3 linked regions of the Homo sapiens genome follow. The protein of the gene in region 2 interacts with the protein of the main gene of each other region in a biochemical or structural test. Each region holds a gene or a part of one and is shown on either strand. Other genes may lie near its edges.

The links.
Region 1: the proteins of RNF144A (region 2) and UBE2L3 form a complex in vitro, tested with the Homo sapiens proteins (3 studies listed by BioGRID).
Region 3: the proteins of RNF144A (region 2) and PARP1 form a complex in vitro, tested with the Homo sapiens proteins (one study listed by BioGRID).

Annotation. Positions count from the first base shown.
Region 1 is NC_000022.11:21,619,714-21,622,123, reverse strand, and holds part of UBE2L3 (ubiquitin-conjugating enzyme E2 L3), read right to left. Parts: intron 610-2,410; coding exon 455-609; 3' UTR 1-454. UniProt on the Homo sapiens protein: Ubiquitin-conjugating enzyme E2 that specifically acts with HECT-type and RBR family E3 ubiquitin-protein ligases.
Region 2 is NC_000002.12:7,039,412-7,042,045, reverse strand, and holds part of RNF144A (E3 ubiquitin-protein ligase RNF144A), read right to left. Parts: intron 2,418-2,634; coding exon 2,286-2,417; 3' UTR 1-2,285. UniProt on the Homo sapiens protein: E3 ubiquitin-protein ligase which accepts ubiquitin from E2 ubiquitin-conjugating enzymes UBE2L3 and UBE2L6 in the form of a thioester and then directly transfers the ubiquitin to targeted substrates.
Region 3 is NC_000001.11:226,398,094-226,401,593, reverse strand, and holds part of PARP1 (poly [ADP-ribose] polymerase 1), read left to right. Parts: intron 1-3,500. UniProt on the Homo sapiens protein: Poly-ADP-ribosyltransferase that mediates poly-ADP-ribosylation of proteins and plays a key role in DNA repair.

The DNA.
Region 1 (2,410 bases), on a different chromosome or scaffold from region 2:
AGTCTCTTCTCCTTTGTGGAGGCGAGCCCGGGGTCTGGGGAAGTAAGTAAGTGAAAAATAAACTCGGTGCCAGAAAGTGGGAGTGGCAAGGGTAGGGAAGAAAGGGAACCACAACCGTTTTTTTTCCTTTTTTTTAAACCTTATGGGTTAAATGTAACTTGAAGATTTTGGATAAAATTGGACAAGAAAAGAAACACCATTCTTTTGAAGTAGATTGAAGCAGTGATTTTTAAAACAAAGAGAGCAGAACTAGAACATCTTAAATTTTTAATCCTTTCTTTACAGGTTACCTAGACCACTTTTGATTAAGAAAACTGTAGAAAGTTAGTAACTGCCACAAGCGAACGCCAGGCGGTGGCACGTGTCAATTTCCACAGAGTCCTGCTTTGCGGGGTGTCTGAATGCACTGCACGGGGTCTCTGCTCACACTTGCTGGAACCAATCGTGGCAGATTTTAGTCCACAGGTCGCTTTTCCCCATATTTCTTTGTAAACTCTTCAGCATTCTTACAGAATTTTTTACGGTCCTTAGAGTATTCTTCAGCTAGGTCAGCCCGAAGCGGGTGCTCAGGCTGGGGGTCATTCACCAGTGCTATGAGGGACTGGATTACTGCCAAGAGAAGGACAAGGCATGGGGGGTTAACACAGTCTCAGAAATGGCACAGGCAAGAGGCAGCTAATCCGGGAACAAAACTCTGGCTTTACAACTGATTTACAGCTAATGTGCTTTTAAGCCAAAGCTGCCTCCTATTTATCCAAAATTCTGACTGCCAGAAAACTCATCTTTCCTCTGTGATTAGAAGACACTGATGGACAACAAATAGCTAACACTACAGTGGATAATTGTTCACAGTGATGTGCTTCCGCCTCCAGGAAGCCTTCCTGACCTAACACCTGGGGAGGTCTTAGCCCTCAGTCACTCCCAGCCCTTTTTTCTTGGCGGGGGGTTGGGGAGGAGGGACAGGGTCTCACTCTGTCACCTAGGCTGCAGTGCAGTGGCACCATCTTGGCTCACTGCAGCCTCAACCTCCTGGGTTGACCTCAAGCAATCCTCCAGCCTCAGTCCCCCAAGTAGCCAGGACTACAGTCGTGCACCACCATGCCCGGCTAATCCAGTCCTCTTGTGTACTCTGGAGATAGGAGGCCTAGTATTGAACTGACTGCTCACTCTCATGCATGCACACAGGGTCACTTTCTTCAGGGCAGGACCGGGTAGAACTTCCCTGCATCAGCCCAGCACCCAGCACCATGCTCGGCTCAGGGAAGTTTCGGTTAAGGTGACTGAGTGGGCACTAGAGAGAAGGGTATGTGATGGCGCTGCACTTGTCAATGCGCAATGACCCAACTCTGGAAGACCCTTAGGAGTTTCTGAACCCTCTAGAAAGGGTCACTGGGGCCAGCCAATGGGAAGCTGACAACCGCCATCGCATCACATTGTCAAGACCACAGGCAGATGTCACGCTGATGGCTCTGATGGGTGCCACAGTACTCCCCCTAGGTGCCGTAGCCCAGACGTGCCCCAGGGTGGAAGGATAGTGGGGAATCAGAAGCAGCTGCTACCCACACCTCCTCACATACTTTGCCACAGTTGCCCCCTGACCCTGTCAGGACCAGCACCCTCAGAATGTTCCTTCCCACTGTAAAACAGTGCCCCTCTTCTCCGAACTGCTGATGCCACAAATTCCTTCTTATTTTTTTTAGACAGTCTTGCTGTCACTCAGACTGGAGTGCAGTGGCTCAATCATACTTTACTGCACGGTACCCTCAAACTCCTGGGTGTAAATGATCCTCCTGCCTCAGCTTCCTGAGTAGCTGAGACTACAAGCACATGCCATCACGTCCAGCTAATTTTTTTTTTTAACCTAGGCTAGAGTACAGTGGTGCAATCACAGCTCACTGCAGTCTTATCTCCTGGGCTCAAACAATCCTCCCACCTTGGCCTTGAGAGTAGTTGGGATTACGGGTGTTAGCCACTGCTCCTGGCCTAGTTTTTTGTAGAGATGGGGTCTCACTATGTTGCCCAGGCTGGTCTCAAACTCCTGGGCTTGAGTGATCCTACCGCCTCATCCTCCCAAAAGTGCTAGGATGACAGGCATGAAGCCACTGCACCTGGTCAATTCCTTTATTAAGGGCTCATATTGTTCATTCAGCATTACAAGAAATGGATTAAAATGCAAATGCTAGCCAGGCAGATCACCTGAGGTCAGGAGCTCAAGACCAGCCTGGGCAACATGGTGAAACCCCGTCTCTACTAAAAATACAAAAATTAGCCAGGCATGGTGGCCCATGCCTAGAGTCCCAGCTACTCAGGAGGCTGAGGCAGGAGAATCGCTTGAACCCGGGAGACGGCAGTTGCAGTGAGCCGAGATCGTGCCACTGCACTCTAGCTTGGGCAACAGAGCGAGACTCTG
Region 2 (2,634 bases):
AATTTGACTGCCCCTGGCTGGCCCCAGAATCTCTGTGGTCCCTATCTGGGTTGAACTACGTGCTTGTGAAACACATCAGAGGTGAAGGCACAAGGATGGCTGGGGCTACAGATGTGCATGACTGGGCCAGAGACTCTTCCAACAGAACAGCCTGTCCCTCTAGAAATAAGGTCATCTGAGCTCTAGCCCTGGGGATGCAGCCTTTCCAAAGGCTCTGACTCTCATCCTAAGGACGGGGGTGCTACTGTGTGGGCTCATGCGATGGGCAGCAGCAATTTCAGGCAGGAAGGATGAGCATATGGTGGAGGCGTGTCCTGTGGGCCACTGGACACAGGGCCACAGGCCTCCCATGTGTGCTGGGCATGTTAAAGGGCAGTGGCTGGACAGCTGCATCCACATATCACAGGCTGAGGGCTCAAGCCCAGCCAATGACTCCCGCGTGGAGTTGCCACCCACCTCCAGAAAAGCTATTCTAACAGTAGACACCATCACAGCACCACAAACGACAGAGAGCCACAGCCCAGGTTCCATCCAGAAAGGGAGTCGCAGGCATGTTCTTACTGAGTTACTAAACTTGCAATTACAAGGAGAGCTTTTTGAATGTAATTTTGACACACAGGGATTTTCTAAATGGCTTCGGGTTCATAAGGAAAATCAACATGACAGGTGAAGAGTGAGGTGACGCTGTTTTTTCTAACGAATTCAATGTTAGGAAATAAGAAATAAATTTCCAACCAGGGAAAGTAAACTAGGACCTGAGACTGATACTCAAATGCAGAAGTCAAACACACACAAAGCAACATTTTAAAAATGTGCTTGTGATGGGCAAATAACTGAGATAAAAGGATTTTGTTTTACTTCTTTATAGAATGTTTAACAAGATTTTTAAAATCCCACTGTAATATAGCTACAATATTTGCCTGTTATTTTTAGAAGTTTTAAATTCAATGCAGTTTGCTTTGTAAAAGCACCTGTGGCTTTTAGAAGTAAATTCTCTTTAAAGAATACACTTTCTCCACTTTTCAAAGTCAATTGGTGGAATAATGTGTATGTGTCCTTATTAATCCCTGCATCCTGCTGCCATGGAAATGGTCACAGACAGCCCTGTAAAAGATCAAGTGGTAAAATCCCCACGTTAAAACGAAGTGAAATGGGAGGTTCTTTTCCCCAACAAGAGCAAAACGGTTAGCAACAGGACTTGGAACTGTGTAAGATATATGATTTCTCAAAATGACTAGAACATTTTAAAAATGTGAAAATCTGGCAGGCTCTTCCCTAGCCCCCAGAGTCCTCCAGCCTCTGCCAAGAGGCCCCTACATCTGCGGATCAATGAGGCTGCTTTCTTCTTACTGTCTATCTGAAGACTGAGGCCAGAGGCCAGACGGCAGCAATTCGGAGGAGAACCATTGCCGAGCAAAGCAGTGGGATTGAATACAATAAAAAGCGTTTTCTGCTACCTGGGAGAGAAGGGATGAGGCCCATGAGCTGAGCTGAATCACCAAAGAGAGAAAACAACAAAAGGCAAATCTAATGGAGATGAGATGTTCCTTTAAACACGTCAATATTATCAAGGAAATGCAACAATATAGGAAGCACACTTATAACAGTACACAGCTTACAGCGTTCAAAAAGTTACTACAGCAAGTTTCAAGAAAAACACAAAGAGTGCATAAGGCTTTCTAAATCTCCTGAAAAGTCGTTTAACTATAACTTCTTAAAATGCACATTTCAAGAAAGGCATAGGATGGTTTATATGCACCTTGTTGATTTTCACTACTCAGTTGGAAAAAAAATACCTTCTAAAAAGGATTTTACTAAATGCCATTAGTAATAAAAACAGTTGTCATAAACAGAGTGCTTCTCTCAAGCTGGAATAATCAGATTCTGTCTGAAGAGAGTGGCAGTCCTTAAAAGACTTCTCTGACAACATGGTGCCATCTAGAAGCCAAGGAGCAGAAAGTCTCTTAGGCCATCCCCAGACATGCCTAGTCTACCACAGAGAGAAAGCTGCCTGGTGCACTTCTCACAGCACCTCCCTGTCATCTGCAGAGATTGATCTGTGGGGATGTGCGCTACCCACACCTGCCTCCCCTCCCCACCACACCTGGGGCCTCAGCGAACATTGTGACATAGGTCCCTGAAATCACGGCGTCCAGCCTGACACTGTGAAGCTCAATGGGGCACATAAGGCAAGAAAGATGTTTAGTGAAGGGGGGACGGTGGGGAGGGTTGGGGGAGAGCCACACTTCCCGGAGGCAGGGATGTGTTCCAGCATCGCGCTTCCTCTAGGTGGGTAACGGGTCGTCGTCACCTTTACTGCACTTGCACTTGCAGCAAAGTACAAAGGGAGTGGCCAGGAGTAGGAAAGGTGAGGCCACCAAGAGCAGCAGCCCAAATCCTGCAAAAATGCCCACAACCTGGAAGAAAGAAACAAAGGGGTAGAGGTAAGGAGGGCTGGTCTGTAGGTTCCAGAGCTAAAGTGTAAACCACACAACCAGCTACCCATCCATCCATCCATCCATCCACCCAACCATCCATCTATCCATCCATCCATCTACCCATCTAGTCATCATCTACTCATTCATCCATTAACCATCATATATCTCTCTATCCATCCATCCACCTACCCATCCA
Region 3 (3,500 bases), on a different chromosome or scaffold from region 2:
ACAGGGACGAAGCAGCTTTCCATAAAACACCCACCAGTGTGCCATATCAGTTTACCATTGCCATGGCAATACCCGGAAGTTACCACCCCTTTCTGTGACAACAATCTGATGACCTAAAAGTTACCACCCCGTTTCTTAACATGTCTGCATAGTCTGCCCCTTAATTTGCATATAATTAAAAGTGGGTGTAAATATGACTTCAGAACTGCCTTTGAGCTGCTGCTCTCAGCACAGTGCCTGTGGGGTAGCCCTGCTCTGCAGGAGCAGTCACAGAGCCATAACACTGCTGCCTCAATAAAGCTGCTTTCTTCTACCACGAGCTCGCTCTTAAATGCTTTCCAGAGCGAAGCCAAGGACCCGCCCAGGCCAATCCCCAATTTAGGGCTGGCCTGCCCTGCATCAGTTTCACTGCTCTAAAAATCCCCTGTTTATCCCTCCTAATTCCTGACAACCACTGCTCTTTTTACTGTCTCCACAGTTTTCTCCTTTTATGTCTTCTCCCATGTCTTAGTACAGGTCACGTCAGGTGACATAGCAGAGCAGAAAGCAAAGCTATTAAAAGCTTTATTAGGAGAGGTAATCCTAGGGCAGCAAGAGAGAGGGAGGAAGGGGAGGCAGGAGGGCAAGCACAGTGCCATACGCTGTCAAGCTGGCCATGGCTTCATGAGAAACAGCCAATGGCTTGGTCATGCAGGATGCCCTCACGCAAGTCCTTTGCCACTAAGCTTCAGAAAAGCCCCTCGGAGCAGGAGGAAGGGAGCAGCATTATCCATTGGTTCTTTCTGCCTCTTGTTTCTCATTGGTTTTAGCTCGCTGGAGGTGCTGTGGTTCTCTGCACTTCCAGACTGTGTTCCTGGCCTCTGCACAGTCACGCCCTGCAGCCAGAGCTGCCTCTAGATCTGGAAGTGGCGGGAGGACTCTCAGTCCCTGGTTTTGAAAGAGTTGGCCTGTTGGTGACAGTGCTGTGTTTGTTACTGTGGTGGTCACTACAGGGTGGGTATGCCAGGGTGTGGCCCTTACCCTGAGGCAGTGACAGTGCTAGGGAACAAGGCTGTGGCACCAGCAGCCACTGTCAGGTAGCCCACCCTGGGGATACAGATGAACTACATCCAGTACGTGTAATTTTATGGTTCCTTATTTCTTTTAACATCTAAATGTTTACTCTATTTGAGAGTTATCCCGGTGTGTGCTGATGTGTGGTGTGAGGCGTGACTCCAGTTTTATTTTTTTCCAGATGATGATCTAGTTTCCCTACTTTGTTTTTTTGTTGTTGTTTTTGTTTTTGTTTTGTTTTCGAGATGGAGTCTCACTCTGTTGCCCAGGCTGGAGTGCTGTGGCATGGTCTTGGCTCACTGCCACCTCCGCCTCCCGGGTTCAGGCGATTCTCCTGCCTCAGCCTCCCGAGTAGCGTGGTGCCTGCCACCATGCCCAGCTAATTTTTTGTACTTTGTTTATTGGCTTATTCATCTCCCCCATTGAGAGGTGTCTTGTATCATGCACAAAATCTCTGTATTTTGGGGTCCTTTTAAAAATTTCTGTTCCATTGTCTGTTTAACCTTTTTTTATATGTAAACTTTTTTCGTTGTTGTTGGAGACGGATTCTCGCTCTGTCACCCAAGCTGGGGTGCAGTGGTGTGATCTCGGCTCACCGTAAGCTCCGCCTCCCAGGTTCATGACATTCTTCTGTATGTAGACTTTTTTTCTTATAGCAGTTTTAGGTTCACAGCAAAATTGAGTAAAGTACAGAGTTTCCATATACCCGCTAGCCCTACCCACCCCACACATACACAGACTTTTGTCCACAATCAACATCGCCACCAGAGTGGTCCATGGTTATAGCTGATGAGCTACATTGACACATCGTTATCGGAGTGGTCCATGGTTATAACTGATGAGCCACATTGACACATCGTTATCCCTCGAGGTCTGTAGTTTACATGAGGGCTCACTCTTTGCATTGTACATTCTGTCAGTTTTAACAAACATACATTGACATGCATGTACCTTTATGGTAGCCTCCAGAGTCCTTTCACTGCCTGGGAAATCTCTGTGCTTTGCCTAGTCATTCCTCCCTCCCCTCTAACCTCCAGTAACCACTGATCTTTTTGCTTTCTCCATAGTTTTTCCTTTTCCAGAATATAATATAGTTGGAATCATACAGAAGGTAGCCTTTTCAGATTGGCTTCTCTCACTAGCAATGTGCTCTTAAGATTCCTCCATGTCGAGCCGGGCACGGTGGCTCACATCTGTAATCCCAGCACTTTGGGAGGCCGAGCCCAGCAGATTACGAGGTCAGGAGTTCGAGACCAGCCTGGCCAATATGGTGAAACCCTGTCTCTATTAAAAATACAAAAATTAGCCGGTGTGGTGGTGTGCACCTGTAGTCCCAGCTACTCGGGAGGCCGAGACAGGAGAATTGGTTGTACTGGGAGGCGGAGGTTGCAGTGAGCCGAGATCATGCCACTGCACTCCAGCCTGGCAACAGAGCGAAACTCCATCTCAAAAAAAAAAAAAAAAAAAGATTCCTCCATGTCTTGTCGTATTGATAGCTCATTTCTTTTTATTACTGAATAATATTCCATTGTCTGGATTACCACAGTTTGTTTATTCATTGACCTGCTGAAGGACATCTTGATTGCTTCCAAGTTTTGGTGATTATGAACAAAGCTGCTAGAAACACCCACCATGTGCAGGTTTTTATGGGGACATAAGTTTTCAACTCCTTTGGGTAATCAAGGAGTACAATTGCTGGATCATGTGGTAAGAGTATATTTAGTTTTGTAAGAAACTGCCAAGCTGTCTTTCAAAAAGCTGAATCATTTTCCATTCCCACCAGCAATAGATGAGAGTTCGTATCATTATACATCTTTGCCAGCATTTGGTGTTATCATTGTTTTGGATTTTGGCCATTCCAATAGATATATAGTATTTTATTATTGTTTTAATTTGCATTTCCCTAATACTGTAATTATCTTGAACATCTTCTCATACGTTTATTTACCATCTGTATATCTTTGGTGAAATGTCTTTTGCCTGCCCCTACCCCCACTTTTTTTTTTTTTTTTTAAGACTGTCTTGCTCCGTCGCCCAGGCTAGAGTGCAGTGGTGTGATCACAGTTCGCTGCAGCCTTGACCTCTGTCTCCCACCTCAGCCTCTTGAGTAGCTGGGACTACAGGTGCGCACCACCATGCCTGGCTAATTTTTTTAAATTTTTTGTAGAGACAGGGCCCCACCTTGTTGCCCAGACTGGTCTCAAACTCCTGGTTTTGCTCTTTTTAAAATCACATTGTTTGTTTTCTTACTGTTGAGTCCTAAGAGTTCTTGGTATATTTTGGATAACAGCCCTTTGTCATATGTCTTTTGAAAATATTTTTTCTCAGTGTGTGGCTGGTCTTCCGCAGAGCAGAAGTTCTTAATTTTGTGAAGTCTAGTTAATCAGTTACTTCTTTAGTGGATTGGGCTTTTGGTGTTTGTAAAAAGTCATCACCAGACCCAAGGT